4 separate regions of the Homo sapiens genome follow, and regions 1, 2 and 4 are each reported to be linked to region 3. The links are microRNA targets in miRTarBase. Many come from high-throughput screens and were not tested one by one. Region 3 holds a microRNA gene; each other region holds the end of a gene's coding sequence. Distances are from middle to middle.
Evidence for each region. The annotated mature microRNA hsa-miR-4480 reads AGCCAAGUGGAAGUUACUUUA and lies in region 3 at 5,181-5,201, shown strand. An mRNA with a match to its seed (bases 2 to 7 or 8) in the 3' UTR can be bound and repressed. Matches are read on the target gene's strand: a 7mer-m8 pairs with bases 2 to 8, a 7mer-A1 pairs with bases 2 to 7 and ends in A, and an 8mer does both.

Region 1: the mRNA of SMU1 is a reported target of hsa-miR-4480. The part of its 3' UTR that is shown has no 7-base or 8-base seed match.
Region 2: the mRNA of A1CF is a reported target of hsa-miR-4480. Seed matches in the 3' UTR shown: 8mer at 2,688-2,695 and 8mer at 160-167.
Region 4: the mRNA of NSA2 is a reported target of hsa-miR-4480. Seed matches in the 3' UTR shown: 8mer at 5,414-5,421.

What each region holds. Positions count from the first base shown.
Region 1 is chr9:33,040,867-33,048,625 of GRCh38, forward strand. It overlaps SMU1 (SMU1 DNA replication regulator and spliceosomal factor), which reads right to left. Exons shown (of 12, transcript NM_018225.3): 11 at 7,240-7,392; 12 at 899-6,525. The coding sequence ends at 6,427. Among named protein-coding and RNA genes, the nearest start is that of DNAJA1, 19 kb to the left of the region's middle. RefSeq lists an enhancer at 3,117-3,618 and a silencer at 3,473-3,792.
Region 2 is chr10:50,799,850-50,807,608 of GRCh38, forward strand. A1CF (APOBEC1 complementation factor) reads right to left here. Exons shown (of 13, transcript NM_014576.4): 13 at 1-7,031. The coding sequence ends at 6,880. Among named protein-coding and RNA genes, the nearest start is that of ASAH2B, 64 kb to the left of the region's middle.
Region 3 is chr10:12,573,616-12,581,374 of GRCh38, forward strand. It overlaps MIR4480 (microRNA 4480), which reads left to right and starts at 5,138; the gene lies at 5,138-5,208. All of the region lies in intron 2 of CAMK1D (calcium/calmodulin dependent protein kinase ID), which reads left to right.
Region 4 is chr5:74,774,914-74,782,672 of GRCh38, reverse strand. NSA2 (NSA2 ribosome biogenesis factor) reads right to left here. Exons shown (of 6, transcript NM_014886.6): 6 at 2,560-6,069. The coding sequence ends at 6,002. FAM169A (family with sequence similarity 169 member A) reads left to right here. Exons shown (of 13, transcript NM_001376049.1): 13 at 665-5,099. The coding sequence ends at 1,213. It also overlaps the pseudogene RNU6-1330P. Among named protein-coding and RNA genes, the nearest start is that of NSA2, 12 kb to the right of the region's middle.

The DNA.
Region 1 (7,759 bases), not on the chromosome of region 3:
GGAACCCTCTGTACTTTGTTGGTGGTAATGTAAAATGTTGCAGTTGCTGTAGAAAAGTCTGGCAGCTGCTTAAAAAGCTAAACATGGAATTACCACATGACCCAGAGCTGGCCCTCCTTTTTGGGTTTCACATCCATGGATTTAGTCAACTTTGGATCAAAAACAATTGGGAAAAATTGTTTCCTGACCATGTACAGACTTCAGCTGTTAAAAGTATAACAGCTGTTTACATAGTACTTACATTGTATTAGGTATTACCAGTAACCTAGAGCTAGATGGCTAAATTACGCAGGATGTGTAGGTTATATGCAAATAACCATCTTGTTTTATATCAGGGACTTGAGTACCCTCGGATTCTGGTATCCATGGAAAGTCCTGGAACCAGTACCCCCATGGATACTGAGGGATGACTATACAAAAGGAATTAAAAACGAATGAAGGCCGGGCGCGGTGGCTCATACCTCTAATCTCAGCACTTTGGGCAGCCTAGGCGGGCTGATCACCTAAGGTCAGGAGTTGAAGACCAGCCTGGCCAACGTGGTGAAACCCCGTCTCCACTAAAAAGACAAAAATTAGCCGGGTGTGGTGGTGGGCGCCTATAATCCCAGCTACTTGGGAGGCTGAGGCAGGAGAAACGCTTGAACCCAGGAGGTGGAGGTTGCAGCGAACCAAGATTGTATCATTGTACTCCAGCCTGGGCGACAAGAGGGAGACTGTCTCAAAAAAAAAAAAAAAAAAAAAAAACTCGTATGGTCAGTGTTTACTGTGCATTCTCAACAGCCCAAAGTGGAAACCTGACTGTCCACCAACAAATGGTTAATGTGTACCTACAAATCTCTCAATTCTCAATATACATGTGTACATACACTGTGAAATACACAGCCATTAAAAGGAATACTTTTTATACTTCCCCCAAATATGAAGCACTTTACTGTTTGATACATGGATGAACCTTTAAAACATGCTAAATGAAATAAGCCAGATAAAAAAGGACAAGTATTGTATAATTTCACTTATATGAACTAAACTTAGACAAATGCATTGAGGCAGAAACAGTACCAAAGGCTGAGGGGAAGGGAAGGAGAAGTTAATTGACAATGTTACAGGGCTTCTGTTTAGGGTGATGACATTTTGGAAATACAATAGTGGTTGCGTAACATCGTAAATAATGCCACTGAATTGCACAATTGTTTAGGAAAATTTGTTACATGTTTTACAATTAAAAATCCTAAGAACACTAAAAGAAAGTCATATTAGGTCGGTTGGTGCAAAAGTAATGTGCCATTACTTTTAATGGCAAAAACCGCAATTACTTTTGCACTAACCTAATAGTTATATCCTGAAGAGGCAGAAACTGATAGGTTTGTCTGTGTAGTTTTTCAGCTTGTATTATTACTACCACTAACAGCCTCTGTTGAACCCTTCATTACTATGTAAGCAGCCATATTTAATTCTCAGAACAATGTAATGAGGGAGAGCCTATGAAAAAACAAAGCCTATGAAACAGAGCCTATGAAAAAACATTAACCAAGGTCATCATCCACAAAAATACAAGTTCCAGCACTAACTCTGCTTTCTCTGTGATGCTTCTCCTGCCCATTCATACTTGTAGGGAATAGGAGTAGAGGCCAATTATGTCGCTTGAGAGTGCTCTTGGAACAGTGGCAAATTTTCTGTACGTGAAATTAGCTTCTCAACTTTTTTGTACGTACGGTACTGGTTCTTAACCTTGGCTACCATTGGAATTACCCGGGAAACATTAAAACACTCATCAGGTCCCACCCTCCAGGGATTCTGTATAACTCGGCTGGGTGTAGCCTAAGCATCAAAATGATTATGCGCAGCCAAGGTTGAAAGCCACCAACACTGACACATGGATTTAATATTAACCACTTGGAACAGAATACCACTGTTAAAATTGCCGTGGAAGGTTAAATAATGGGCAGCCCTTGCTATTCCAAGTTTGGTTTTTTTGTTTTTTGTTTTTGAGACCAAGTCTTGCTCTGTCACCCAGGCTGGAGTGCAGTGGCACAGTCTCAGCTCACTGCAACCTCTGCCTCCCGGGTTCCAGCTATTCTCCTGCCTCAGCCTCCTAGGTAGCTGGGACTACAGGCGTGTGCCACCATGCCCGGCTAATTTTGTATCCTTAGTAGAGACAGGGTGTCACCATGTTGGCCAGGGTGGTCTTGAACTCCTGACCTCGTGATCCACCCACCTCGGCCTCCCAAAGTGCTGGGATTACAGGCTTGAGCCACCGTGCCCGGCCTATTGTAAGTTTTAAACAACCTCAGACCAGGGAACTTCCTCACTTGGACATACACTTCATAGCAATTTCTTCTCTTAAAATAGTGGAAAATGAAGCTGTAAAAGCACAGTGAATGAGAACACTAGCAAGCTATGGCAATTTGAAAAAATGTGATTTTAAGAGTCAGTCTTGCACCTTTATCATTTAAATTTGGTTATCTCAGCATGAAACTTCTGAGACTGACAGCAAGAATTAAAACACCTTTTGTATATGCGGAAACTACCCTGTAGTCTACCTGCTCTCAAATTTGAGCACGCTTGCTGGGCCCCACCACCAATTTCTGATTCTGTAGGTCTGGGATAGGACCTTAGAATGTGTCTATCACGTGACACTTGTAAGAACCACTGTTCTAGCACAAGCCAAAAGAAGTGACAGCAAAGACTGACATCCAGAATCCTCTAATTCAGTTCTCTCTACTCATCTCACTACCTGTGCTCTGCTTAGGTGAATGTGTTTGCAGCATGTGGAGGAACAATCCATGTATTCTTTGTCCCTGCCCAAACCTAAAGATTGAGGAGGAACTGACAGCAATATTGAGAGTGAGGCAAGAGAGAAAAAAAACCTAGCTTCGGAGTCACATCTGGTTTTCAATGCGAGCTTCGTGCAAGTTGGACTGAGTTAGGTGCCTCACGTCTGGAAACCTGTTTCTTCATGTGCATTTGCGCACCCTCATTACATTGTTCTGAGAATTAAATATGGCTGCTTACATAGCAAGGAAGGGCTCAACAGAGGCCGTTAGTGGTAGTAATAATACATGCTGAAAAAAAACAACTGGTGAAGAAGATACTGAATTGTACCTGAGATTTATACCATTTGCTGTTAAAAAAAAAAAAAAAAAAAAAGCCATACTACTCCCAAATACCTCCGCGCAATGTTTTCCAGTCATTAATTCAACAGCAGAATAGGGGATAGGACAAATGTCCTTATGCTCATGGAATTAATTTTAACGCCAGGTAGTTTAGCTTCTATGTTAAGTGCTAGAGAGCAGCATCCGTTAAATCTGGTGGCTGCAGCAGAGCACTTCCCTAGGAACCGACTGCACACGCCCAATTCAGAAGGAAGTGAGCACTGATTCCCGGCAGCCAACTCCCGTTCGCGCAGCCGCTGCCACCGGCCCTTAAGACGATGTGACCGCCAATTTTGTAACAGTGACGTCACCCGACGTCTGCAGGCCCTGACAGTTGGCTCTAGCGGGTGCGCAGTCTCCCTACCCCCGGTAAGGGGCTCTACCGGCCCTGGACCCAAGATGGGACTCCTACCTCCGACCACCCGGAGCAGCGGCGCCCCAGATCCGGCCGTCCGCCCTGCGCGTGCGCGGCCCGACCCCGCCGCGGTCTGGCTGTAAGGGCGCTGGAGGGGAGCTGGGCTGCCCCAGCCTTCAATGCTGGAGGGACGGCCGCGTGGGGCTTCAGAAAGGCTAGGCGCCGAGGAGTGTAAGCAGCGTGTGCCCATTTAAAGACAAAATCAGTGTGTTTTTCAGGTTTGTACGAAATGAAGTTGTAGAAAGATTAACAAGGGTTACCTGGGAAAGGCAGATTTTCAACTTAGCGTTTACATGTTCACCCAGTGCATTATTTTATTTAAAAAGAAGAAAAATATATACTTAACGGCTCCTAATCCAGCTCTCTTTGCCTGGTCTCCCAAGACACCTATCATTTTGCCCAGCACATACCTTGCCGCTGTGCCACACTGGAGTCCCCGGTTAGGTTCCCTGTGCTTAGACCGCCCCCTAGTCCCTCCAGGAAGCCTTTCCCAACCCTTTCGCGTTAACTGCCCGCCTCATCATCACAAAGGTAACTTGAGCTTTTATCAGTTTTAATTACTCCTTTTAATTTGCTCTTCTTCCCTATGTTTAGGCAGAAACGAGTCTTTTTTTAACCATATTCATCACCTGGTGCCAGCAACAGAAGTGTTCCCTAAAAATTCCTAGAATAAACCAACACGTGCTGACTAGATTCTCCATCTTCATAAACGGTGATACAAACTATGCACATCATAACTACCAGCTTCATGAGGTCAAGACTAAATCAAAAATTCTCAAGGACTTTTCTAAAAATTTTTTTAGCATAAACTGTTTCCTCTAACTTAAACTTCTCTTAAGTGAACGTGTCTTTCCACTGGGATGACTGTCTACATGCTCAGGAATCCTGAATTCATGACTATGTTCAACTCCCACGACCATTTTTAAATCATCAAAATGGCAGCAAATGTCATTACCTGGACCAAAAAGCTGCAGGTTTTGTGGCAAATGGGAAATGTGTTATAGAATATGACTGGGAAAGAGGGATTTCTTAGTGCTGCCCAGAATTAATTCAGCAAACACTGAACATTACTACGTGCCACATATAGGATCATACTGCATTTCAGGTCACCATCAAAGGTAAATTACAAGGCTGGGCGCAGTGGCTCATGCCTGTAATCCCAGCACTTTGGGAGGCCAGGGCAGGCGGATCACCTGAGGTCAGGAGTTCAAGACCAGCCTGGCCAACATGGCAAAACCCCCGCTCTACTAAAAATACAAAAATTAGCCAGGCATGCTGGCATGCGCCTGTAGTCCCAGCTACTTGGGAGGCTAAGGCAGGAGAATCGCTTGAACCTGGGAAGTGGAAGTTGCAGTTAGCTGAGATGGCACCACTGCACTCCAGCCTGGGCAACAGAGCAAGACTCCATCTCAGAAAAATAAAATAAATTTTTTAAAAAGGTAAATTACAAGACTGCAAAACTTTTTAAAAAAACCTTCCCCACTAGTTTGTACCTAATAAATGCTAACATTTAAAAGGGGGCACAAAAGGCCTGCAGAAATAAGAACTCACGTTCTTGAAAGTACTGCCTAGCATGGTATCTTCCTCATCATCAGAGGTGCTCTATACATCTTCAGTTGAAACGTGAAACAGACATCCATATGCAAAATATTTTCAAGGGTTTTGTTGGCTTTTACATGTTTTTCTTTAGATAACTGGTAATGATGCACATTACAAAGGAGACTTTTCTAAATCTCAAGTCCTTTGCTAATTTTTCTTTGGAACAACAGCACATTTTCAATGCCAAACCTTCTCCTACAACATACAAAGGGGAGATGCCAAAACTCTGAATTCTTGTAACGGATCCTGCAACTAGTTCTATCCAGAAGATGGAGACAATATTCCCTGGAGTTGACTGAACATGTGAGAAGGCACAGCTCAGAAGGAGAGGAAGGCTGAGGGCAGTGAAATGAGAACCTATGCATCACCTGGCCTTTTTACATGTTAGTCTATCCTACTATCCCAGGAATTCACTTCTGCTGTACTTGAGATTCAGGGATAATAATGTGACTCCTCCTCCCACATTCTAAGTAAATATGTTAACTAGATGAGCATTTATGTACATTTTAGAACAAAGTCTCCAGAAAGGTATAAAGTTTATTAACATCTTTAAAAAAAAAAAAAAAAAAAAAGATGGGCCGGGCATGGTGGCTCACGCCTGTGATCCCAGCACTTTGGGAGGCCAAGGCGGGTGGATCCTTTGAGGTCAGGAGTTTGAGACCAGCCTGGCCAACATGGTGAAACCCCATCTCTACTAAAAATACAAAAAAATTAGCCAGGCATGGTGTCGCACACCTGTAGTCCCCAGCTACTCGGGAGGCTGAGGCAAGAGAATCGCTTGAACCTGGGAGGCGGAGGTTGCAGTGAACCAAGATCGTGCCGCTGCACTCCAGCCTGGGCAACAAGCAAAACTCCATCTCAAAAAAAAAAAAAAAGATGGAACAGAACACAGCTACTGAATATGATATAGTTCCTTATTTACAAGTTTTACTATGGGAGGGACATTTTCCTCAGCATTTCAAATAATCAGAGGAGTAGAATTTTTTTCTAGAAATATCAGTATTTCACTCTCCAGGTCGAAGATTAATGAAAACATTAAGTGACTGCACCAGTTAGAAGAAGATAAACTAATACCTTAAAAATATATAAAAAAAGAAAGGGTAGTTGCTACTTAAACATGAATTTTCACAAAATTATTCTGTGACTAATTCAGACAATCTATTTGCTTAGAAAAGCTGGCAAAAAAAAAAAAAAGCACATTACATGAATATGCTTCATTTAAGTACATGCTTTCGAGCTGATTTAAAAAGAAAAGTTGAATTATGGTTTCCAGAGCTTTAGGAGTCCATCTTCACTGTAGGTAGCAATCAGGTTCTGATGAGGGTGATGTGCAATACCAATCACATCCTTCTCGTGCACCTGGAACATGTAAAGCACAGGGTTAGGATGTACAGATCTGCAATAAATCACTCTGATGAGGCTTCCAGAGGTGGGTGGAAGGGAAAAAGAGATCTTGGGAGGCCACATATTCCAAATGGCATAGGAGAAAGATGGAGGAGGGTTTTCCAACTCACATCACATTGTGACATAATAATAAACTTTAGGCTGGGCGCAGTGGCTCATGTCTGCAATCCCAGTACTTTGGGAGGCAGAGGCGGGTGGATCACTTGAGGTCAGGAGTTCAAGACCAGCCTGGCCAACAGGGTGAAACCCCGTCTCCACTAAAGATACAAAAAATTAGCCAGGAGTGGTGGCATGTGCCTGTAGTCCCAGTTACTTGGGAGGCTGAGGCAGGAGAATCACTTGAAACCAGGAGGCAGAGGTTGTAGTGAGCCGAGATCACACCACTGCACTCCAGCCTGGGTGACAGAGTGAGACTCCCTCTCAAAATAAAATAAAATAAAATAAAAATAAACAAACTTATATAGTGTTAAGCCACCGAGATTTGGGGATCATCATAGCAGCTGACATTAATTTTACTTCTTGAATTTGACATGGAGCTAAATGTTTTAAAACAACATATTTTATACTGAGGGTCACATCGATAGCTCTGGAAAAGGCACATACTTCAGAGTTCAGAAAGACACAAGTCCTACCATATTTCTTTAGATGAACTTAGTAAGTAATACTCACTGTCAAAGTTCTCTCCAGTTTGCCAGTGACTGTACTGAAACAGTAGAGCACAAAGTCCTCCCCTACACAGTAGATCCATTCACCACGGGGAGAGAGGGCACAGCAAACAAAGTCCCCACCTTCTCTTTTACCAGAACTGAAGCTTCTGACAATCTAGATCACACCACACCCCAAGAAAAAAACATCAGGATTAGTAGCAGCTCAACCATGTGCAGCATTTTAAACTGACATTTTTACGTTGTTATTTTGCACTTTGGTTTACTATCATTTGTAATTAGATCTCCAGTCCTGTTCATCATGTGCTAACTCCCCTTGCCTGGGAAATATTCAATAGATAAGTAATCTAAACTAAGTGGCAGACAAAAATTTAGAATTCATACATCCCACGTCACCAATCATGCCCTAAAGAGACATATTACCCTTAAGCAAATTTCATTGCCATACAAAAAACAATTTTCTAAATCAATATACCAGTATTTCTCAAAGCTTTCTGGATGTCTGCTCTCCAGTTTCCTCTAAC
Region 2 (7,759 bases), 38 Mb from region 3:
GTCAGAAACATAGAAGAAAAGGAGAATTCTCTGAAGGAATAAGAATAAAAATTCCAATGGTTACATTAAATATTTAAACCAGTGATAATGATGAATTGATTTAAATAGATTTATCTGTAGTCTGTGTGCCCAAAGATATCTTAGGAATTATAAAGAAAATGCCAAGTTTCAAAATAAAATTTACATTTGTAAAAAGGTATATATACTTTATTGCAAAGAAAGGCATGTCTAAGTCTTGTGATATAGATTTTAAAATTTTATAAACACAAATGTATTTAGAAAACAGAAATAGTTAATGGCCAAAATGTTTTCAAGTAAATAAAATGTATAGGTACCTGCTCATTAACATCATAAATCAGTAGGTGAATTTATCAATTCCATGTTTTAATTCTCCTTCTGGACCTCTAACTAACCTTTTTCTCCTTCTATTTTTGCATAGTCCTTTATATTTCTCCTGGGGGAAATATTTGAAAACTCATTTTACTTAAATAACCATAATAGGTGAAGTGTTAAATTCACCTTTTAAAAGGCTTATTGTATCAGTCCAGAGTTTGGCAATAATAGTGGAAACTTAAGGTTTAGAACAGAGTTGATTTATTTTCAGAATTCTAAGTGGCAAAACCTATCAGGTGTTGCAATTATATTCAATTTTGAAAAATGCAGAATGGACCATGGGACTGTGTGCCCCAATTAAAGAGAGAAGTAGGAAATATATGTATTTGTATTCACAGTTTCTGGTATAAGAGTAGGTGCATAGTAAACACAGGCTGATCATATATTCTCTGAAGAATAGATTTGAGGGTTAATAACAATAGAGCCTGTAAAACTTGTTTAATTTCCAATGTTAGTGAAGAGAATAGAGGGAGGGAAAAAGGGAAATTTTATGAAAAAGGAAAATAATCTCTCAATGTTATTTTCCATTAAAAATAATAAAACCTTTATATGACGTGATGTGAGGATTTTTCGTGAAGAATGGTTGATGAACAATCATAATGATGAAATCAAATGCAAGGGAATTAGTGTTGGAGCAAATTTGTGAAGCAGAAGGAAAAAAGGCAATATCCTTTTTAAGGTGAAGGTTAACGTAAGACCTGTCTGTTTTGGGATAGAAGTAACTCAACTCAAGGAAGAAAGAAACCAATAAATGCTCTAATACCCTACTAGTGCCCTGTGGATCTCTACAGACCAAGCAAGTGTCCCCAAGAGCTATCTTTTGTCTTGCCCCACCACCTAACCTGGCATAATAATGACTAGCTTGCTCTGCCATATGAAGGCAGAACTCAGGACTCACAGCCCAGGGGTTATGAGAGGAAAACTAGGACCAAAAATAGGCTGGGTAGAGAGATAGTTGGACAGAAAGTGGATTGATGGAGATTTCAGAGGAGGAAGTGATCCATTCTTCTCTGTTTACTATGACCCTGCTCAGTCAGAAAGAAGTAGCTAGGCTCTTTAGTTTAAGCTGTTATCTGCTTTGGAGAAGACAAAGCCAATTCTACAAAATTAAAAACAACAAGAAAACAACAACAACCCATAAAGATGGTGGGGTGTGTGTGTGTGTGTTGGGGGCAGACACTGTATAATTTGTTGTCTAAACTGGGACACGTTTGGAAATAAGAGGGATCATTGTTAATATTTATAGAAGGACAGCAGACCTAAGCCAGGACTGTCCTGGAAAACCAGAATGTATTGTCACCTCAGAGAGACATTGGTAAACCCTGAATGGGGCTGATATTCTTCATTCTCCAAGAAGGCCTGTGGGCAGCTTACTTTTTTAAAGATACTGTTTCTTGGTATCTCCTATTCCCTTAGACAAAGTATCATTTGTGGAAAGAGAACAAGCTGTATTCTTCTTCTTGAATTTCTCTCTCAAAATAGGAGAAAAGTCTGTAAGGGGGAGGTAGGTACAGAAGAATTCCATATTTTATTCCAGGCATCTTCAGATGAATGAGGTATTTTGGTTTTCAGGTTATTTTCCCTTTCTAAATTGGCTATGAATTTCATTATTAGTGAGAGTACAAGGTTTTCTTTTAGCTTTCCTACAAAACCAAGGAGAACTGGGGGCACATAAAGTTTGCAATCTCCCACAAATGAGCCTACATATACATTGCTATCTATATTAAACCTATGCATTCTATTTTCTGTATAAACATTGTTGGACAACATGGCTTTAAAAATGTTGGACATTTGGAGGGCAATAGAGTATTCTGTACCCATTTTTCCTTTAATAAAAAAAGCTTAAATATTTTACTTTTTAAGAGAGGGAATGGGAGTCAGAAAAATCTCATTTTCCTTAGTTTCACTCATTATAGCGCAACTTACTTTGTTTTTCTAATGTTGGCAAACACAAACATAGAGCCTGGTAGATACATTACACTTTCTATGAATATGTTCTAGTAAAATTCAGAGCATTTTCAAGATATTATTTGGGCAAACTAAAATTTCAAAATCAAATTTGACAGTTTAACAAAACCTGATTGACAATGGTTGCACGTCAGGTAGGAATATTTACTGCCTAGTTTCTTCCTGTCTTCCAATAAGTATATACAAAATCTTAAGTTATCCTATTAACATTTTCTTTTTAAAAATATTTATCCAAAGTTTCCTTGTAGTGCTATGTTAGAAACTTAGTTTTATCTTTAACAGATGTATTTACAATATATGAAAGTGTATCTACAATACATAAAAAGTGCCAAGTTTCTAGTCTAATTTTTAGATATATTTTCTTCCCCCTGGGAACTTTTATATGAATGCAAGAAGAGAATAATCATGACTTTATGTGAATATTGAGCACATAGTTCATTTTTTGTTGTAAGTTACTTTTAGGAAATCTTAGTGTTAGAGTTGTTCAATAATAATATACTTTATCAAACTTCATAGGTTAGAATGCAATGAAAATTTACCCCGAATATTAACTTGATTGCCCTTTATTCTACAAATGGCACACCTAAGAACCTCCCTGTCTATGTGGATTCTAACTGTGGCCCAGTTGTCCAAGACAGAATTATAAAACGGTCATTTAGAATATAACAAAAATTAATAAAAATGGAACATTATATTGATGCAATATTTTGCTAATCTATGCAATCAGAATAACATTTTTTCTAAAAAATACTTTTAAGTAAAATAAAAACCAATTTCCTGCACAGCTATTATCAGTATATACTTATAGTTTAATTTCTATTCCATCATGAAAAAGTTAAGAAACTGTGGTTTGGAAACAGGTTCCTTTTTGTTAGATATTTATTTTTGCTTTTTTGGAGACAGGGTCTTGCTCTGTCACCCAGGCTGGAGTGCAGCGATGTGAACATGGCTCACTGCAGCCTTGCCCTCCAGGCCTCCAGCAATCCTCCTGCCTTAGCTTCCCAAGTAGCTGGGACCACAGGCCCACGCCACCACAACTGGCCAATTAAATTAAATTTGTTTTTTTTTTTTTTGTAGAGGCGGAGTCTCTCCATGTTGCCCAGGCTGGTCTTGAACTCCTGGCCTCCAGCAATCCTCCTGCCTTGGCCTCCCAAAGTACTGGGGTTATAGGCATGGGCCACTGTGCCAGATATTTTTTGAAATCCATATTTTCTTGACATGAGGTAGCTTTTTAGCAGCATTTCGGGTGCTGTTCCCCAAACATAGTGTTGTTTGGCATGATACCAGATTGGAGGATATCCTAGTCATCTAGGAGAATTATATTTTGTTGCAGTTGAAGGTGCTGTTCTAGATATACTAATGCAGTGGGAGAGAAATAAAGCAATTTGAGAAGAGGCAGCACTTTTATAGGAAAGAAAATAGATACCCAATCCCATTGCTGATCAATTTCCTCCTACTTAAGCAACATTAGGCTGATTTTAATTATCAATAAGCTATTAATTACCAAAATTTAGAGAACTAATTCAAATTTACTGGATGTTCCTAAATTATTGTTTTGTTATTATCACCTGGTTGGGTGACAAATTTTAATTTTTTCTGTAAAGAATTAGGAAGCATTCAAATAAGAAATTACAGAAAAATTGATAGTGATGCAGAAGGTATGAAGGTATTATATAGGTGCTAATTTCTTAAGTCTAAAAATATAAACCTATGCAAAATTAGCCTTTGGTTCTACCAGCAATTTAAAAAAGCCCGTTGTCTTAATAATTTTAAACTTATGGTAGCAGGACTTGCTCTATCTACCTAACTTGGGGAAAGTAAAAATAAACATATGGCATGGTAGACACATTAACACTTTCTATGAAGGTATTTTAATGGAATTCAAAGTATTCCCTAGATATTACTAAAACAAAGTAAAATTTTAGCAAAAAAACCAAAACCACTTCTACCTACTTATACAAAACTGGCTCTAAAGAGGTAAATGGTGTGATAACTTGAGATGGTGTTCCAGTGGTAATTTTCTCAATACTTTGGTATTATTGTATGTTTAGGTGTCTGCTCTTAATATTGTAAACAAACAATTATGACTTTATCCAGAATAATGATTTTTTCTCATAAAAAGATTCATGTATTAACTAATCTTTTCATTGCGATTAAATTTAAAACTTCTCTAAATCAAACCTAATTTGCATTGACAAGACATCCAGAATACCCTTTGCTGTTTATTTGCAAAGATTTTAAGGAAAATCAGAACTTTTGCTCCTAGAATTTGGAATGCTTTTTAGACTCAGTAGAAATTTGCCTGCCCCAATGGACATTTGTTATGTCAATGTAATCACTGTCTTTGAGAATAAAAGCAGATCTGTAGGGGAGTGTAAATTTGGATCTAAGAATTGTTTTAGGACAAGATTGTTTTACTTTCTCATTTTTAGAGTTAGTTTGAAGCCTACGTAAGTTACATTTAAATTCATACTATTTATGGGATAAATATGATTTGGCTATTTGTCTTAACTTAGATGATTTTTTAATTGCATTTTTCTATTTACTAAAAGTGAAATAAAAAGGAAAAGAAATAAAGAGATAGAGTATAAATACAAGAATATAGCAATTCCCAAACCTAGGTGCACATTGAAATCACCTAGGGATCATTAAAAAATACTGATGCCAGGCACCCATCCAAGGAAATTCTAGTGTAAATTTTATGAGATATGTTATTGGCATTAGCATTTAAAAAGCTCTCCAGGAGATTCTAATGTACAGCCTACTTTGGGAACTACTGTCCTAGGAAATATTAGACGCTAAATGTAAAGTAGAAAGCACAGGGCCTTTCAGAGTTTCAGCTGTAGCCTTGGAGGCTTTGTTATCTCATTGGAGTTAGGACAACTGAAATGTTACAAGTACTTCTGATTGTGATTAAAATTTACCTGATTTTGATTAGAATCTGGCCTGCTTTTTGATCACAGAATTCCATTAAGGAGTTGACAAAATTTTCCATGTCTTTGTGTTTATGTTTTCCTTTGTGTTCTGTAAATTTTTTTAAGGGCCAAGGGATTTTAAAAAATGAAAATTCTAGTACTGTGTCTTAAACCACTAATGAGATTGATGTAGGAGTAACAGGTATTTGGTGTTGGACTTAAGATTATTTATGTTTGAACAAAGCAATCATTTACAAGTATGGCAAGAAAGTAGTGCCTTCTCTTTACCTCTGTTCCGTGTTTTGTAGCACCGTTGCCCTCCCCTCACTTCATCATCAGATATTTCTGGAGAAGAGGCCTAGGACTCTGGGGGGAATTTGGTAAATAACACCCATGCTGATTGTCTGAAACAGTTTCTAATCAGCAATGATTGCTGTAAGATTTTTCTGTGGCAGCTTCAAGACAAAAGGACTCAGGTATGGTGAAGCTGCCTGATACTTACTGAAACAAAAAGGAAGGAAAGTTAGAGGATTTCCTGGCAGATTTAAAATAAATGGGTTAGATAATGCAAAGCTAATCCCAAGTTAATATAAGCATCTCTGATTGCTAGATGGTGGGGTGGATACTGCAACAATATCAAAGAAATGAGAGCAAATCTGCACTTCTCTCTTTAAAATGACTTTTCAGTCAATTTGCTGAAAGGAAGAAGTATCATAAATGATATTCTGTATATCTGATTTACTTTTTTATGATATTAGGTAGGAGAAAAATGAGTCTGAGATGATGAAAATCAAGCAATATGAACAAGTCAAAAAATTTTAAAGTAGAAAAGGTCATTTCATGCTGGCATGATTATTGGAAAAGGTAGGAGTTCTAGGGAAAAATAGGTGTGGACTAATGAGCTGAATAAACAATGGGGCCTGGATTTGTTTTAACCACATCTACAACATATCATATCTATTTCTAGGAAGTCCCCATGGGCTGCAGGGGACAGGAAGATCCTGATCTGTGACAAATCGACTGGATGGAATTTTCAGGCTGAAGAGAGGTTGAAACCACAAAATCTTGGACAGTCTTTCATGAGCTCAGGCCTGCAATCATGCCCCACACAGTGAGCCATGGTGAATGCATTTTGAAAAGCAACCTCCTCCCTTCCCTTTTCCTCTTTGTGACTTTGTGTATCACAAAAGCAGCTGTGAGCCAGAGGTAAGACTCTGGAGTTTACTTGGCTTCCCTTGATTATTACTGACTGCCCAGGTCTGCTCCATCCCTCCCAAATCTTGCCAGCTACAAGATCTCTCTTCACCCTGGCAGGATTTGTAAACATACTCCCCAAACACTCAGGAAGACTGGAAGAACAACTTTTGGGGCAGTGGCTCTCCAGCTTTCTGTTAAACAAAAGGCTCTTTAACATTTGATTTCATTTCAGAATAACGTTCTTACTTCATGATTCTATAATTGGTATAAGCTATACAGTCTCTGGAAAGGCATTTCTTTAGGAAACATATTATTTATGATCATTGGGGACCGAGTTAGAGGTTTATTTCTTTTTTTTTTTTAATAGAGTTTTGTGTGTCTTATTCTTAAATTTAAAAAAGCATCTTCAGAAGGTGCCATATCCATCCCCTCGGGCAGTCACTGCAAAAGTTGGGTAGACCTCATAGGTTGTATATGCTGCTAAGTCTTGTCCAAGGGTTACCGCTTGCTTGAGCTGGGCTGCAGACACGGGTGCAGTTGCATTAGGGACAGCATATCCTGGAGGAAGAGGCAGAGAAAACTTGATGAAAGGAATTCACATTTGCTCCCTTTTGGCTTATTTGTCTTCTTTTAGAAATACGAACATTTAACATATTGCTTAAAGCTAAAAGTTAATATATATGTTTTAAAAAGTGTCCTTAAGGACACAATATGTGGACTCAGTGATTTTCAATGATATTTAAACAGTCCTAGGACAATGTTCCCTAAAGTGGGGTCAACCACCTGTGTCAGAATCACTTTATACTTAAGAGAATTAAAGATGCTTGGGATAGGGTCCAAGAAAGAGAAACTTAACAGGATACTGAGTTGATTAAAGCTTGTGATTTTTAGCGTTTTGAGGGTCTCCAAATTTATAAATGAGAAAAGGTGACTGAGGGGCTGGCTGGGCATGGTATGTGGGGAGGTGGGGATCTGTGGGACTGGTTCTCCTGTAACCCCACACCTGCCTAAATGAAACATTTAAAACATTTGCCTTTACCCAAGAAGATGTGTAAAGACTGGGAGATCAGTAGGAGAAATACTGTAAAGGTTAAGTGTGCTTTTCCATAATACCTTAAAAGCAAATGCCTAACCTGTCCATATTTACATGTAACTATGAATGGCAAAAGCACCTTCTTACCTCCCAAGCCCCTCATCAAGCCTGTGCTTGTTGTATTCAGAGGCCTTGATGCTGGTTCTCCGCCTCAGAGAACCAAAGTATCTGAGAATTAAAAAAATAATCTATG
Region 3 (7,759 bases):
TCTTTTTCTTCCTTGCCTTCTTTCTTACGTTTTTCTTTTTCTTTTTTTTTGTTTTTTGTTTTTGAGTCAGTTCTGTCACCCAGGCTGGAGTGCAGTGGCCTGATCTGGACTCACTGCAGCCTTGAAACTTCTGAGCTCAAGGGATCCTCCCACCTCAGCCTCGCAAGTAGCTGGGATTACAAGCACGTGCCACCATGCCTGGCTTATTAAAAAAACTTTTTTTTTTTTTTTTTTTTTTTTTGTGGAGATGGGGTCTCACTCTGCTACCCAGATTGGTCTCAAAGTCCTGGGCTCAAGTGATCCTCCTGCCTTGACGTCCCAAGGTGCTGGGATCGCAGGTGTGAGCCACTGCACTTGGCACCTTCTTTCTTTAAATTATTTATATTGTATTTTTACATCTGCAGCTGTACTTCCTCACTTATCCACTCATTCACCAACCCCTTTAGGACTTGTCTTTTGACCAACCATTGTACTGAAACTGTTTCTTTAAAGACTTGACAATGATTCTTGAGTTGCCAAACATCATAGCCTTTGCAGAATGCAGAGTCCCCATGACTGTTCTGAAACACTGGGCCCTGTTGACCACTTCTTGACCACCAACCCCTTCTTAAAACTCAGATTCTTTAATTATGACATTGCTTAAGTACATTTGCCTCCCTCCTTCCCTAGGGGATCTTTCTTTCTGTTTTGTCCTTTTTTTTTTTGAGTTGGAGCCTTGTTCTGTCGCCTGGGCTGGAGTGCAGTGGTGCAATGTCAGCTCACTGCAACCTCTGCTTCCTAGGTTCAAGCGATTCTCATGCCTCAGCCTCCTGAGTAGCTGGGATTACAGGTGCACACCACCACGCCTAGCTAATTTTTTTTTTTTTTTTTTTTTTTTTTTTTAGTAGAGACGGGGCTTCGCCATGTTGCCCAGGCTGGTCTTGAACTCCTGGCCTCAAGTGATCCACCCACCTTGGCCTCCTAAAGTGCTGGGATTATAGGTGTGAGCCACTGCATCTGGCCTGGGATTCTTTCTTACCTCCTTTGCTGACTTCTTCCTCCTCGTGTTAGTCTGTTCTCACACTGCTATAAAGAACTACCTGAGACTGGGTAACTTATAAGAAAAGATGTTTAATTGGTTCATGGTTCTGCAGGCTGTACTGCAAACATAGAGGCTTCTGCTTCTGGGGATGCCTCAGAAAGCTTCCAATCATGGCAGAAGGAGGAGCAAAGTGTCTCACATGCTCCTCAGGAGCAGGAGCCGGAGCGTGAGTGAAGGAGGAGATGCTGCACGCTTCTAACAACCAGATCTCACGAGAACTCACTATGAGGAGAACAACACCAGTGGCATGGTGCAGAACCATTCATGAGAAACCGCCCTCCATGATCCAATCACCTCCCACCAGGCCCCACCTCCAACACTGGGGACCACAATCCAACATGAGATTTGGTGAGGACACGGATCCAACCCCTATCACTCCTATTTTTTTCTTTTTTCTTTTTCTTTTTATTTTTTGAGATGGAGTCTCACTCTGTTGCCCAGGCTGTAGCGTAGTGGCACGATCTTGGCTCACTGCAACCTCTGCTGCCCAGGTTCAAGCGATTCTCCTGCCTCAGCCTCGCAAGTAGCTGAGATTACAGGGTCCTGCCACCGGGCCCGGCTAATTTTTATATTTTTAGTAGAGATGGGGTTTCACCATGTTGGCCAGGCTGATCTTGAACTCCTGACCTTGTGATCCACCCGCCTTGGCCTCCTAAGGTGCTGGGATTACAGGTGTGAGCCACCACACCCAGCCATCACTCCTGTTTCTTAGCTGGGGACATTTAAAACAATTTGATATCCTGTCTCCTTTGCTTTCCAAATGTCCATCTCTGGAATCCCCCTTGGTTTGTCTCTCACTTTAATTTGGAGGACGTCCAGGGCAAAATCTCCAGCCTTCATGTCTCTCTAAAGCAGTGGTCTCCAAAGTGGGTAGACAAGATGGTCCATTGGGATGCAGAAAGAAAATGGTAGCACTTCCACTTATAATTTGATCTTTTAGAATGAGGAGGAAGTTAAGAATCATGAGTATTGTTTTGGATTGACAGTTTGTCAGGCAGACAGTCACAAGCCTGTGACTCATTCCCAGGGACCCGTGGACCCCCCAAGAATTCGCGCTCCTCTGCCTTGAGCTTAAGAAGACAGTGGTGGTTTGCATGTGGCTGGTTAAATGGATTTGTGGGTTGTATCCCCTAGTGTTACCTAAACCAACCTTCACAAAATAGACCAAGAATTTAAGAAGATTCCTGGAAGGAAACCATGGCTTGAAGATAATATTAAAAATGCAAGCGCAAGCACACAAGAGGATAATGAAAGAGCTCAGATTTCTGCTCCTGGGAGTTCTTTGTCAGTCATGTTACAAGGATAAAACAATTTAGTAACAATACAAATACAAATGAAATATTCAGTTTCATTGATCTCACTTAAAATACTCTCTTATTCATAACATTTTTCTAGTGAAAGCAAAAATGTGAACTGCATTGTTCCTAAGTAAAATAGTTTATTTATGTTGTTTCTTTGATCGAATTATTTAAAGTTTTAAGGCTGTGTAAGTTTTAAATTTACATAAGATATGAGTGCAGTGGTATCTCTGTTATAATTTATAAATTAATGTATCTATTTTGGGGGTTTTGTACCTGAGTATTTTGTACTGAAGGGGGCACATAGTTAACACAGTTTGGAGACTATTATTCTAGAGCAGTGGTCCCCAACCCTCTTGGAACCAGGGATTGCCTACATGGATGACAGTTTTTCCACTGACCGGAGGAGGGGGAGGGTGATGATATCAGGATGATTCATGTGCATTACATTTATTGTGTACTTTATTTTTATTATTATTACATTATAATATATAATGAAATAATTCTACAACTCACCATGATGTAGCATCAGTGGGAGCCCTGAGCTTGTTTTCCTGTAACTAGATGGTCCTACTTGGGGGTGATGGGAGATGGTGACAGATCATCAGGCATTAGATTTTCATAAGGAACACACAACCTAGGTTCCTTGCATACACAGTTCACAATAGGGTTCATGCTCCTATGAGAATCTTTTGCCACCAATGATCTGACAAGAGGCAGAGCTCAGGCGGGAATGCTCACTTGCCTACCACTCACCTTCCTGGTGTGCGGCCCGGTTCCACGGCCTGGTACTGCCGTTCTGGAGACTCGGCTCTGTATTTCTAGAGCTTTGTAGACAAATCCATGCTGGTGTCTGGCTTGGTCCTGTGCATGTCAGTCAGTGAGCACACCTGCATGCCGTCTATCTCAGAATGGAGAGCTGGAGTGTCTGGCAGAAAAGGAACCACATCTCTGCGAGTGACACAGAGCCCCAAAACCCAGCCTGGGGAAAGGGGTGGAGAGAGGCCGTGGAACCAGTTCCAGAACACTTTCACGTGCATCTTGGTTTCTAGCACGGACTGGGATGCCTTTGTTAATATGTGCCAGGCTGGGGCACTTGCAGGAGGTGACGGCCACCTTGACTCTGTATGCTGAAGCCCTCTGGTCACTCACCCATGTATGCTGCAGTCCCCCCGGCCAATAACACAAGCCAGGACAAGCCCAGGGGAGGTCCCCGGACACACAGCGAAAATTCCTGGCTGGTTCTGTATGTCGCCGTGTTGGGTTCCCAGCCCAGTTCCAGCTCTAGGCTTGCAGGTCTCTCACTAGGAACTATGCCTCCAGCCCTTTGGTGGATTAACACCTGCCACCTCCAGTTCTGAATCTGACCTCTCCCTCTAGGCCTCCAGCCTGGATCTACCCAGTTCTGGATTCAGATCGTTACAGGCCCAAAGCACTGAAACATTGCAGAGCACATTGCTTTTCTTCTTTATTTAAAGAACTAAATTAAGCATTTTAAACCATATAATAAATGTAAAGAGATCCAACAAAGTTCTGTTTCTGCCATTATTACTATATCATGGCTATTTCGGAATGATCAAATAGGAGATTTTTTTTTGTTTTCAAAAAGTCTCTGTCTTTCTCTTTTGTTGTCTGTATTTTGCTGCTAAGCCACCAGTTCTCGATTGGTTCACTCCCTCTTCCTGCTACAGATTGTCTTAGGGGTTCTATTCATGAGACTTCTGGAGACCTAAACCCCACTCCGGCCAATGCCCCATAACGGGGTATGATGCTTGGCTGACATCGTTAACTCAGCCCCTCCAAGATTATGCCCATTTTCCTCCTTCCCCACCCACGTGGTGTCCTCCTTGTTACCTTTGCTAATGTCATTCCCAGGATCCCAGTTATCTACGTAAAAAATCAAAGATGGAATCTCCACCTATTCATCCAATCATCCATGCAGTCAACAAATTGGTATTCAATGCTAACAGTAATATTGGCTAACATTTATTAGGCAAGCACAGCTGCCAGCGTTTATATTTGCATTATCTTACATCCTCACAGCAACTCTGCACGGAAGGTATTGTGATAGTCTGCTTTTTATTTATTTATTTATTTTTAGACAGGGTCTTGCACTATTGCCCAGGCTGGAGTGTAATGGCACCATCATGGCTCACTGCAGCCTCGACCTCCCGGGCCCAAGCGATCCTCTCACCTCAGCCTTCCAAGTAGCTGGGACTACAGGCATGCACCACCTTGCCTGGCTAATTTTTTAAAAAATGTTTTGTAGGGCTGGGCACAGTGGCTCACGCCTGTAATCCCAGGACTTTGGAAGGCTTAGGCAGCCAGCACTTGGGGAGGCTTAGGCGGATGGATCACCTGAGGTCAGGAGTTCGAGACCAGCCTGACCAACATGGAGAAACCCCGTCTCTACTAAAAATACAAAATTAGTTGGGCGTGGTGGTGCATCCCTGTAATCCTAGCTACTCGAGAGGCTGAGGCAGGAGAATCGCTTGAACCCGGGAGGCGGAGGTTGCTATGAGCCGAGATCGTGCCATTGCACTCCAGCCTGGGCAACAAGAGCTAAACTCCATCTCAAAAAAAAAAAAAAAGTTTTGTAGAGATGAGATGTAGTCTCTCTAGTTTGCCCAGTCTGGTCTTGAACTTCTGGGCTCCAGCAATACTTCTGTCTCAGTTTCCCAAAGTGCTGGGATTACAAGCATGAGCCACTGCACCGAGACCGATGACCCACTTTTAACAGCTGAGAAACCTGACCATTGCAGAGGTGAGTTGACCTCCACAGGGCCACCCAGGGAGTAAGTAGCCAAGTGGAAGTTACTTTACCTCTGTGATGATTTGCACCAGTTCAGTTTGACTTTAGAGACAACAAGCTGAAGCTCTACACTCGATTGACTGTTTTCAGGTGCTATGTGAACACGGTGGGTAGAGACGCATAGCACATGAGCCCTGTGCTGGGGAATGTGCAGTCTAGTGGGTGCCCAGAGGCACGAGCAGAAGACAGCAGCCCTTTAAGAAGTGCCATATGCTTCAAGGGCATAGGGAAGTGTGTCTGCTCCAGGGAAGGGGCTTTCACCGAGAAATTGAACAGAGCTTCAAAGAGCAAGAAACAATTGGCTGGGTGGGTGTGGGAGCGCGAGGAGTCCTCGGAAGGCGCCTGAGTGAGGCTGTGGGTGTGGAACAGCATGGTATGGGCAGGGAACAGCATCGTGGCTGATGCAGGATGAGGGGAGCATTCCTCTTCTTGTTCCACTTCCTGGGTCTGCAGTTACAGAGTCCTGCATAGCATTCCTCATATCTTTCCCTTCCTTTCCTTTCCTTCTTCTGAATCCTGTGTTGGGCCCCGTGGCCTTATCTCTGGACAGTTGCAGCAGCCTTTTCTCTCCACTTCTTCTCATCCATCATGTATTACTTAAGCCAATTTAATCATGTAGCTTTCTTTGATCATCTTGTTCTCTCCATTAAAGAGTGGCTCTCCATTGCCTTTGGAATGTGGTCAGACCATTGAGTCTGGTGCTCCAGGCCTTCTGTATTTGGGGGTCAGTCTGTGTTTCCTGCTGGATCTTTCATGATGTGTCTGTCTCTTCCCACTGGAGCAAACAAAAATAACTTTCTCTTCTCTCCATCTACTACTCTTTTTCCCTGTACCCTTTTCTTTCCCTACCTGTCAAAAATCTTGACCATCTCTCAAGCTCGCTCCAGTGTTACGCAAACATGAAGCCTTCCGGACCAGACCAGTCACAATTGTCTCTCTGTGCTCTTAGATGCCTTCACTGTGATGGGGACCGTGGGCTGCACCACCCTTGTCATGGTTCACACTTCTTAAGCGAGAGGTCGGATCTCTTCTCTGGATCTGTCTCCATGAGTTCCCACCAAGATAGGTTGGAGATTCACGGAGTGGCTTTGAGTTTCAAAAGCCAGTTTTGAACCTGCTTGTTGCCCTGGCTCAGGTGGAATTCTTTAGAAAAGTGTCCACTCTCAGCCAGGGTGGAATCCTTTAGGAGAGTGTCTGCTCTAAGCTTTTTCCCTTGGCCTCCACTGGGGCGTTTTTCCTTCAGCAGAAAACCCATGATGCCATCTCCTCTGGGGAGGAAAATACTGCTCTGTGGAACCTCGCAGGGCCTTTCGGCACAGCCAGAATTCCCTGGTGAGAGGTTTCCTAAAGGGTTAGTCATTCAGACCTGGCTGTGTGAGCCAGATCTGTCCTGTCTTGAGATAATTCTTAAGGCTACGATTTGCTCGTCAACATCATCTGTAACTAGTTTCACTAACAGATGTTTAGGAATTGGGCATCTAGGCTGTACCAATGTATCTGGACTAAAATATGCCCCTCCCTCCCTTCCTTCCTTTTTTTTTTTTTTTTTTTTAATATAGCTTTAATGGGAGACTGGAGCCTGCTGTTTCTCACCCCTTGTCTCCCGGGTGACAGTATTTGGTGTACAAAGCTAGTGACTCTGCAATTGTTGAATTAGCTACAGATTAACTCCTCTGAGAACTTGGTTTCCGATGAGAGTGAAACATGTACTTTGTATGCAGAACTCTTACTCTTCAAACAGGACTTATTAACTAGAAGAAACTTCACTTTGTACTTGAAAAATGGAATGTAAATCATAAAAGATTGTACCATTTAAGCCCCACTAGAAAGAGAAAAACAGAAGTCATGGAGAACCACATCCTGTTCATATGGACCCCAGCCTAAGAAGAATGCAGGAGTGTGTGGAGAGGGTCCTATGGGGAACCCCAGGAATGGCCAATGGTGGGAAATTAGGTTCTGGGAAATGTGTGTATTGTTTTGAAAAGTATTATTTTACCTGGAGAAATTGAACAACTGACATCAGCTAACATATATTTATTATTGTGTTGAATGGCCAGCATTCTGTGGGGGCATTGTGCTTTTTTCCTTTATTTTATTTTCATAGGTTTGGGGGAACAGGTGGTGTTTGGCTACATGAATAAGTTCTTTAGTGGTGATTTCTGAGATTTTGGTGCACCCATCATCTGAGCAGTGTACACTGTACCCAGTGTGCAGTGTTTTATCCCTTACCCATCCCCACCCTTTCCCCCAAGTCTCCAGAGTCCATTGTGTCATTCTTATGCCTTTGCATCCTCATAGCTTAGCTCCCACTTATGAGTGAGAACATACGATGTTTGGTTTTCCATTCCTGAGTTACTTCACTTAGTATTATGGTCTCCAGTTCCATCCAGGTTGCTGCAAATGCCATTATTTCATTCCTTTTTATGGCTGAGTAGTATTCCATGGTATATATATACCACGATTTCCTTATCCACTCGTTGATTGATGGGCATTTGAGCTGGTTCCATATTTTTGCAATTGTGAATTGTGCTGCTATAAACATGCATGTGCAAGTATGTTTTTTGTACA
Region 4 (7,759 bases), not on the chromosome of region 3:
AAATTGGATAAAGCATTATTTACCAAATATTTGAGTACCTATATTTGTTACATAGACTATGACCAAAACAGTAATTTATATTTGTTTTAATTAGGCAGACAGATTAGGTTAGTGGGGGAAAAAACTTGTTGGAGTATTTTAAAAGAAATTTAATTTTGTTACTTTTGAATATTACAACTTATGGCTAAAAAACTGTTGTATGGCATTATTAGTGTCTCACCTAAGCAAAAGAATAAAACTTCCATTGCCCTAACTTATCTAATGAAATCGTAGTCAAACGTAGTGTGGTAGCGCAGTGAAGTCCCAAGGTATTTTTGGTTCTGGCTCCAGTAACACCAGGAAACTAAAAAAACTGAGTTGATTCATGGTTTTAAAGAATCTTGATATGAAGCTTAATGTGTCTTAATTATGAAATAATTATTTCATTATATCCTCAAAGTAATAACTTAGTATTAAAATTACCATGTGAAACAATTTTGAAGAAATTGAGTTGTATTCAGAATATATACACATATAGCAGAACAGAAATTCAAAAAAATACTCGATTTTGAGTAATGAATACCGAATTAAATTCTAGTTCAGTGTCACTGCATATTAGAGCCTGAGAATTTATTTTTAGAACTGTAGTACAAGTTTATTTGTTGACCAGGTTTTTAATTTTCAGACCCCACGTATACCTGACTCAGAAATGTTGATGGATGAAGGCACATCTGATGAAAAGGGGCACATGGAAGAGAAATTGTCCCTACTTCCAAGAAAGAAAGCACATCTTGGGAGTTCAGACAATGTTGCTACTATGTCAAATGAAGAACGATCTGATGGTGGTTTTCCAAACTCTGTGATAGCTGAATTTTCCGAAGAACCGGTCTCTGAGAATTTGTCTCCTAATACTACTTCCTCATTGGAAGACCAGGGTGAGGAGGGGGTATCTGAGCCCCAGGAAACATCTACTGCTCTTCCTCAGAGTTCTTTGATAGAGGTTGAACTTGAAGACGTGCCATTTTCACAGAATGCAGGACAGAAGAATCAGTCAGAGGAGCAGTCTGAAGCATCTTCCGAGCAACTGGATCAGTTTACACAATCGGCAGAAAAAGCTGTGGATAGCAGCTCAGAGGAAATAGAAGTGGAAGTGCCTGTGGTAGACAGGCGGAATTTAAGAAGAAAGGCCAAAGGGCATAAAGGACCTGCTAAGAAGAAAGCTAAGCTGACCTGAAGGAAGAAGAAAGTGGATGATAAATCCTCTTCTTTGTAACATAGTTGTTGTTTTTAAAATATGGTAATTAATAAACAGCATGGGGCACAGGACAAAAATTTCCAAAATTTCAATTTGAACTTACTTACTATGCAGTTTTTTGCTTCCCTTTAGAACGTAGAATTCACCATTGTTTTTAATTTTCCAGGCTATTTTTGGTAAATGCAATTTTTTATTTTTATTAACCATGTTTCAATTTTGGGAAACCAGATCATATTATATTTTCTTTATCAGGTGGTACATCTGACCATTATTTCAAAAATATAATTAAAAAGCTGTGAAAGTAGTAGGATTTCCATTACTTATAAGGATCACAGAAATCTTTTATACTAAGGGTTTTAATAGTAAAACTTGGTGAGGGTTCTAGAAGTTTTAAATTTCAAAACTAATCACCAATTTTTTAAAATGTAGGCATGCCTAAACAAAAATAAGTGTCAATAAATTAGAAAAAATATAACTTCAAGTAAATGAGAGCACAAAAACAGAAACTTACGGTCAAAGGTTCATGAAGATATTTTGGTTTTGGCCTCTTAATCCTAGATATAGATGCAGTTTTTTCCTTTGACTTCACTATCTATGGAAAGGTACACATAAAATCTGTTTCTGATTCATTCTATCATCTGATGTTAACAGTACTGTCAGGGATTTAACTGTGGCATGTGGGGACTAATTATTTAAAATTTCATTTGAAGTATTAGTTTGCTGTAATTTTTTTTGTCTGCATATGTGCAGACGCCTAGAAGTTTAGACTTTCACCTTTAATCAGGTAAAAATCACAACTATACTTTGGAGACATGGTTTAATTTGGACTTCTGGTCCTGATCAGATAGATAAATTAAGCTGGAGATTTTACTTTTATCCCAACCCAGTTAACATCTATATTTCAGAAGTATGAGGCTCCTTCCTAAGGCATCTCCTTAAATCTTGCCACCTCCCTAATTCTACAGTCTTATTTATATTCCCCCACAGCTTTCATCTACTTCTGTAACTCATGGAGTGATTCTCCAATCAACAGATCTTCCTGCCTGCCGGCTTATGCCCTTGATGTCCATTTTTGGGTAGGTTTGGAGGTGCACCCCACAATGTTAGACCTATATGGCAGGAGTAAAACTGCCCCCAGTGTTAGACCTATATGGCAGGGGTAAACTGCCTTTGGGGGAGCTGTGGTTACAAGGGCTTCAATCATATTGGAGGCTTCAATCATCCTTTGATTTGTACTGAGTACTGGTTGCAAGCTGGCCTGTTAAGTATATATTGTGTTGCCATAACAAAGGCCTAGGAAAATTTGAAGAAAAAAAACACTGAACTGTTATTTTTTGTAATTTATTTAAAAATGGACAAAATGGTTATTAGAATCCAAAGATAATCTAAAAACAGTTCTACTCTTTGGAAATATTATGTGTACTCAAATTTGCACTTAAGTTGGAGAATGTTTTGAGACCATTTAAATTGTTTTAAAAATAGCTTGATCTTGATCCTTATGCAAAAGAAACTAAGACTTTGTGTCATTATTTGAGGTAGCTAAGGACTGATGTTGAAAGTGTATTCAGTCTATAGTAAGCTGATGTCAGGTCAGTAAATTTTGTTTGGGGATGTTGGTATTTTCGATCAAGTTAAAATCTTAAAGCAGACAAAAATAGTAAACGCTCCTATTTGTGTTAGATTTTGAACAATTGTATTACCCTATATTTTCTTTAATTAGTCAAAGGTAAGCCAGATTATTTCATTCTAAATGAAAATTAAAGCACTTTGGCCATTTATTTTTTCAACAAATGCTAATACTAAGTAAAAAAAAAAAAGTATGACTACTATTAGTGAATCTACCAAACATTTATGCTGTTTTATACATTTTATGAGAAACTTCTGTCAATATCACAAAGGGAAATACTCTGTTAAGATTCAGTAAATTCTTAATCTTTACATGTTTCATTTCTTAGATTTGAAAACACTTGTAGATATTTTATTTTTACTTGGATTTGTTTAAAATACTTTCTTTTCAAATTATTTTAAACATGGAAACGCTTCATGAATTTGTGTCATCCTTGCACAGGGGCCATGCTAATTTTCCCTGTATTGTTCTAATTTTAGTATATGTGCTGCCGAAGTGAGCACTAAAAGACTTTCTTTAGACAAGTGTAGTTTTTTAAAGATTGAGCTCACTGGCTCAACTCTTGATGTGTGAATATAGTTGAGTTTACAAAAAATGTTTATTAATCATATATGACCATTGGGGGCTAACAGTATAAACTTATTCTTGTTAAACTTGTTTGGGTTAAATAGTAAGTGAATTGTAAACAATTTAGAAGTTTTTTGTTCAGCACACAAGAACACTTCTGTTACAGATTCTCTCTGACAGAAATTGTTATTTTGGGGTTTATAGATTATAGAGGGAAAAGTTAGATCACTTGGAAAAACCTAACTCTCATGTTCAGTAACTTGAGTATAGAATTTATACCACAATTTATCTTCAATAAGGAACCTACATGAACTTAATCAGTTATCTGTAGTTTTTGCAAGGCATTAGAAAAAATTTCACAATTACAGAGGACTGAAAATGTGATTTCAACCGGCTAGTCTAGTTGTTGAATGTCCAGTCACATTACACATAGTCCTTTGTGAACTTATTTGTGAAGGGAGTTCACTTTTTATGTACATACGTGTATATTTCCTTGTGTAATATAAAGCAGATGGTTATTAGTATTTTAGTTCTTTCAAGTTTAAATTATTCAATTGCTAGACATCACAGAAATTAGTATATTTAAGAATTTATTATAAAGCTCCTCTACAACTTTTAAAGGTGAGAGGGTCTATTATGATTTTTTTATAAAATCAAACAGCATGATTTAGAACGTCAGTCTTCTACTTAAAATGTGTCTATATTCATGGTATTTCCATTCAGTGTAGATGGTAAGGAAAACATCTAGTCATTAAAGATTTACTTATAGCAGACTCCAGAACACTACCTACAATGGGGTTTCAGTGACTAGAAATCTTGAAGGTTTATGATTGCATCAAATTGAGCCTGTACTAATATCTAAATATCTGCTCTTATGTTCTGCTTTATCCCTTGGGATTACCTTCTAAGGTTTGGTCACACCAGCAAACTGAAACAGATCTTAATGTACATAAAAAATTTATACTAATATTACTCATCTGTGTTACAGTATTTTGAAAAATGTTTCAGGTGTCATCTAGTCGTCTTTCATGGGTGTGATTAGTTACAAATGTTATGCTTATGTTTTCATACTTAATATCAAGCTTTCTTTGTACCTTACAAGATAGTATTTTTGGTTCTAAAAAAAACAAGCAAACTTCATTTTTGTAGTATCCAGAAATTACCTGGAGTCAGTATTTTTATTCGCCTTCTAGAACTTGTGATCCACACATCACCCATTTATATTAGTGGTAAAATTATCTGCTAAAATCTAATTGTAAGAAAGGCTTACCTTCTGTCATCAAGTGATTGTATCATCCTGGATCGTCATTTCCAAGGAACTAGCCTTTCTTTTCCTAAGCGTCTGTATGTGTTCTAAAACTTCCAGTATATATTTATAGAACTTAGAAAAAATGTTACATTATTCAGAGTAGCAAGTCTTACTGGAGTACCTATGTTTGTTTTCTTGGTTTTTATTTTTTTTTAAGTTTAAAAGTAGTAATTAAACCTATATTTTGTGATTGTTTCCTGGTCTGTGTTTTTAAATTCCTTTCCTTCAGTTTTCCTCATGAAGATGTTTCAGATACTGAATTTGTTTAGACATTGAATGACTTTGTTAAAGGCACAATTAATCACATTGGTTGTACTCTGAAGACAGACTTCTTTAAAAAAAAAATAAACAATTTAAAACAATGTGGTGATTATAGATTAATGTAATATACGCCATCCTTAAAACCACAACATATAACAGATCACAAAAGTGCTTTCACCAAGTTACAACCGTAAATCCTTACCTTTTTACATCATCTAAGTAACTGCAAATAAATTTCTCCTCAGGGAATCAGTGCAGTCTTCTTTTTCCTTTTAAAACTTAGCTGGAGTTACTTAAACTAATTCTTAATACTATTCTGAAAGTATAAATATATTGTTTAGAATACAGAAAATGCTAAGAGAGTACAAAGACTTTAGTATATTTTTTTCATTTTCATGATTCAAGTAGAAAATAGTGCCAAGTAGGTATTATTATACATGGTAAATGAGATGAAAAAAATGTTTAGAATGTGAATTCACTAGACCTTTGCTGTACTGGATTTCACAGGTGAAAAGATTTCTCTAAGATTTCTGAACTTTTAGTGTCTTCTCACATACTTCTAGTGTAAACAAACACTATAAACTTAACATCTGTATTAATGCTACCTACCTTTTTTAGGATTAATGATTAACGAGATTTTGAAGATACTTCAGTTAAATTCTCAGACACATAATTGTGTATTAACCTTTTTGAAAGGCATTTTCAATGAACACTGGTGGTTTTTTCAGGAAATTGCTGAATACCCACTCACAAATGCAGATATTGATGAAGTAGGATATTTGTATATTTGCTTTTTTTCAATCATTCAGTTTTATGAACATGGGGTCAAAGCGTATTTCAAAATAAAGACCATTTATAAAACTGGACCACTTTAATGTTTACAATTTAATAAATCTCTTCATTGCAGACATGTATGGCTGTTTGGTAGTATTCAGAAACATCACAGTAATGGCAGTTTCTTCAATTGGTGTGTAGTCCTCAATAATTATATATGAAATTGCTGTCAAACCAGTAAGACTGCATTTATACATCCATCATTTTCAGGATTGTTGGTAACCTGGGCATATTTTCCTAAGGAAAACAAAACCAAAAAAGGGAAAAGGGAGGGTTGTTAGCTAATAAAAATTAATTTTAAAGAATATAACTTTTGCCTTTTTTTTCTTTTTGTCTTAATACAGGGTTTCACTCTTATTCCCCAGGCTGCAGTGTGGTGGCGTGATCTGGCTCACTGCAACCTCTGCCTCCTGGGCTCAAGCGATTCTCCTCACTCAGTCTTCCGGGTAGCTGGGACCACAGGCACACGCCACTGCCTGGCTAATTTTTTTGTTTTTGTATTTTGTAGAGATGTGGTTTTGCCATGTTGCCCAGGCTGGGCTCGAACTCCTGAGCTCAAATGATCCGCCTGCCTTGGCCTCCCAAAGTGCTGTGATTATAGGTGTGAGCCACTGCGCCCAGCCATGCCTAAAATATTTCTAATTACCACTTTCAATAAATAAGAAATGAACCATAAAGGATAAATGAGATTTTACAAAATTCAATCATTTAAGGACAAATTTGAGTTCTGAATACAATTTTCATACAAATAGTGTTTTTGCAAATAATGGCCAGCTCCATGTTATTAGTACATTGCATTAACAGGCTTTTGTGGATTGACCTGAGCATTGTCACTTTTTCACATAATTCTTCCTGGAAAATGTATCAAGTTTCAAATGAGTTTCAAGTCAAGGTAACAACATATTTTAAAACTGAGGTCAGCTGACATGAAGTATAAACCAATGACTGAAGAAGTTGTAGCGTGTATTCTTCCCTTTCAAAGAAATTGGATCTGGGTACTAAAGGTAGAAAACTAAGCAAATGAGGGCGTTTAAAATTACTGCATGACACATTTCTGTTTTAATTATTACTGATCTAGTGTGATTATATGTTGTATGCCTCCCTCGGCTCATGGTTAATTTATTCTATTTTTTTTTTACAATTTTTTTTAGTTATAACTTTGCATCTGCTTCCCTTGTAATAAAGAATTTTTATTAAAAAAGATCAAAATATTTTTATTTTACTTATTTTTGAGATGGAGGCTTGCTCTGTCTCCCAGGCCGGAGTGCAGTGGCATGATCTCAGCTCACTGCAAGCTCCAGGTTCATGTGATTCTCCTGCCTCAGCCTCCCGAGTAGCTGGAATTACAGGCACCCACAACCACACCTGGCTAATTGTTTTGTATTTTTAGTAGAGACGGCGTTTTGTCATGTTGGCCAGGCTGGTCTCCAACTCCAGTCTCAAGTGAACCGCCTGCCTCGGCCTCCCCAAGTGCTGGGATTATAGGTGTCAGCCACTGCGCCCAGATAGCGAGGGGGCTTTTTAAAGCCTGGAAGCTTCTACATGATTTCTGAGACCTGTTAATGGGAATTAACAGAACGAACTAAACTGTGTTAAATCACTTTCAATTATTATTATTACTTTTTGAGACAGAGTCTCGCTCTGTCATCCAGGCTGGAGTGCAATGGCACGATCTCAGCTCACTGCAAGCTCCACCTCCCAGGTTCAAGCGATTCTCCTGCCTCAGCCACCGGAGCAGCTGGGATTACAGGTGTGGGCCACAACACCTGGCTAATTTGTGTATTTTTAGTAGAGATGGGGTTTCACCATGTTGGCCAGGCTGGTCTTGAACTCCTGACTGCAGATGATCTGTCCGCCTCAGCCTCCCAAAGTGCTGGGATTACAGGCTGAGCCACCGCTCCTGGCAGTTTCAATGATCAGTTTACCT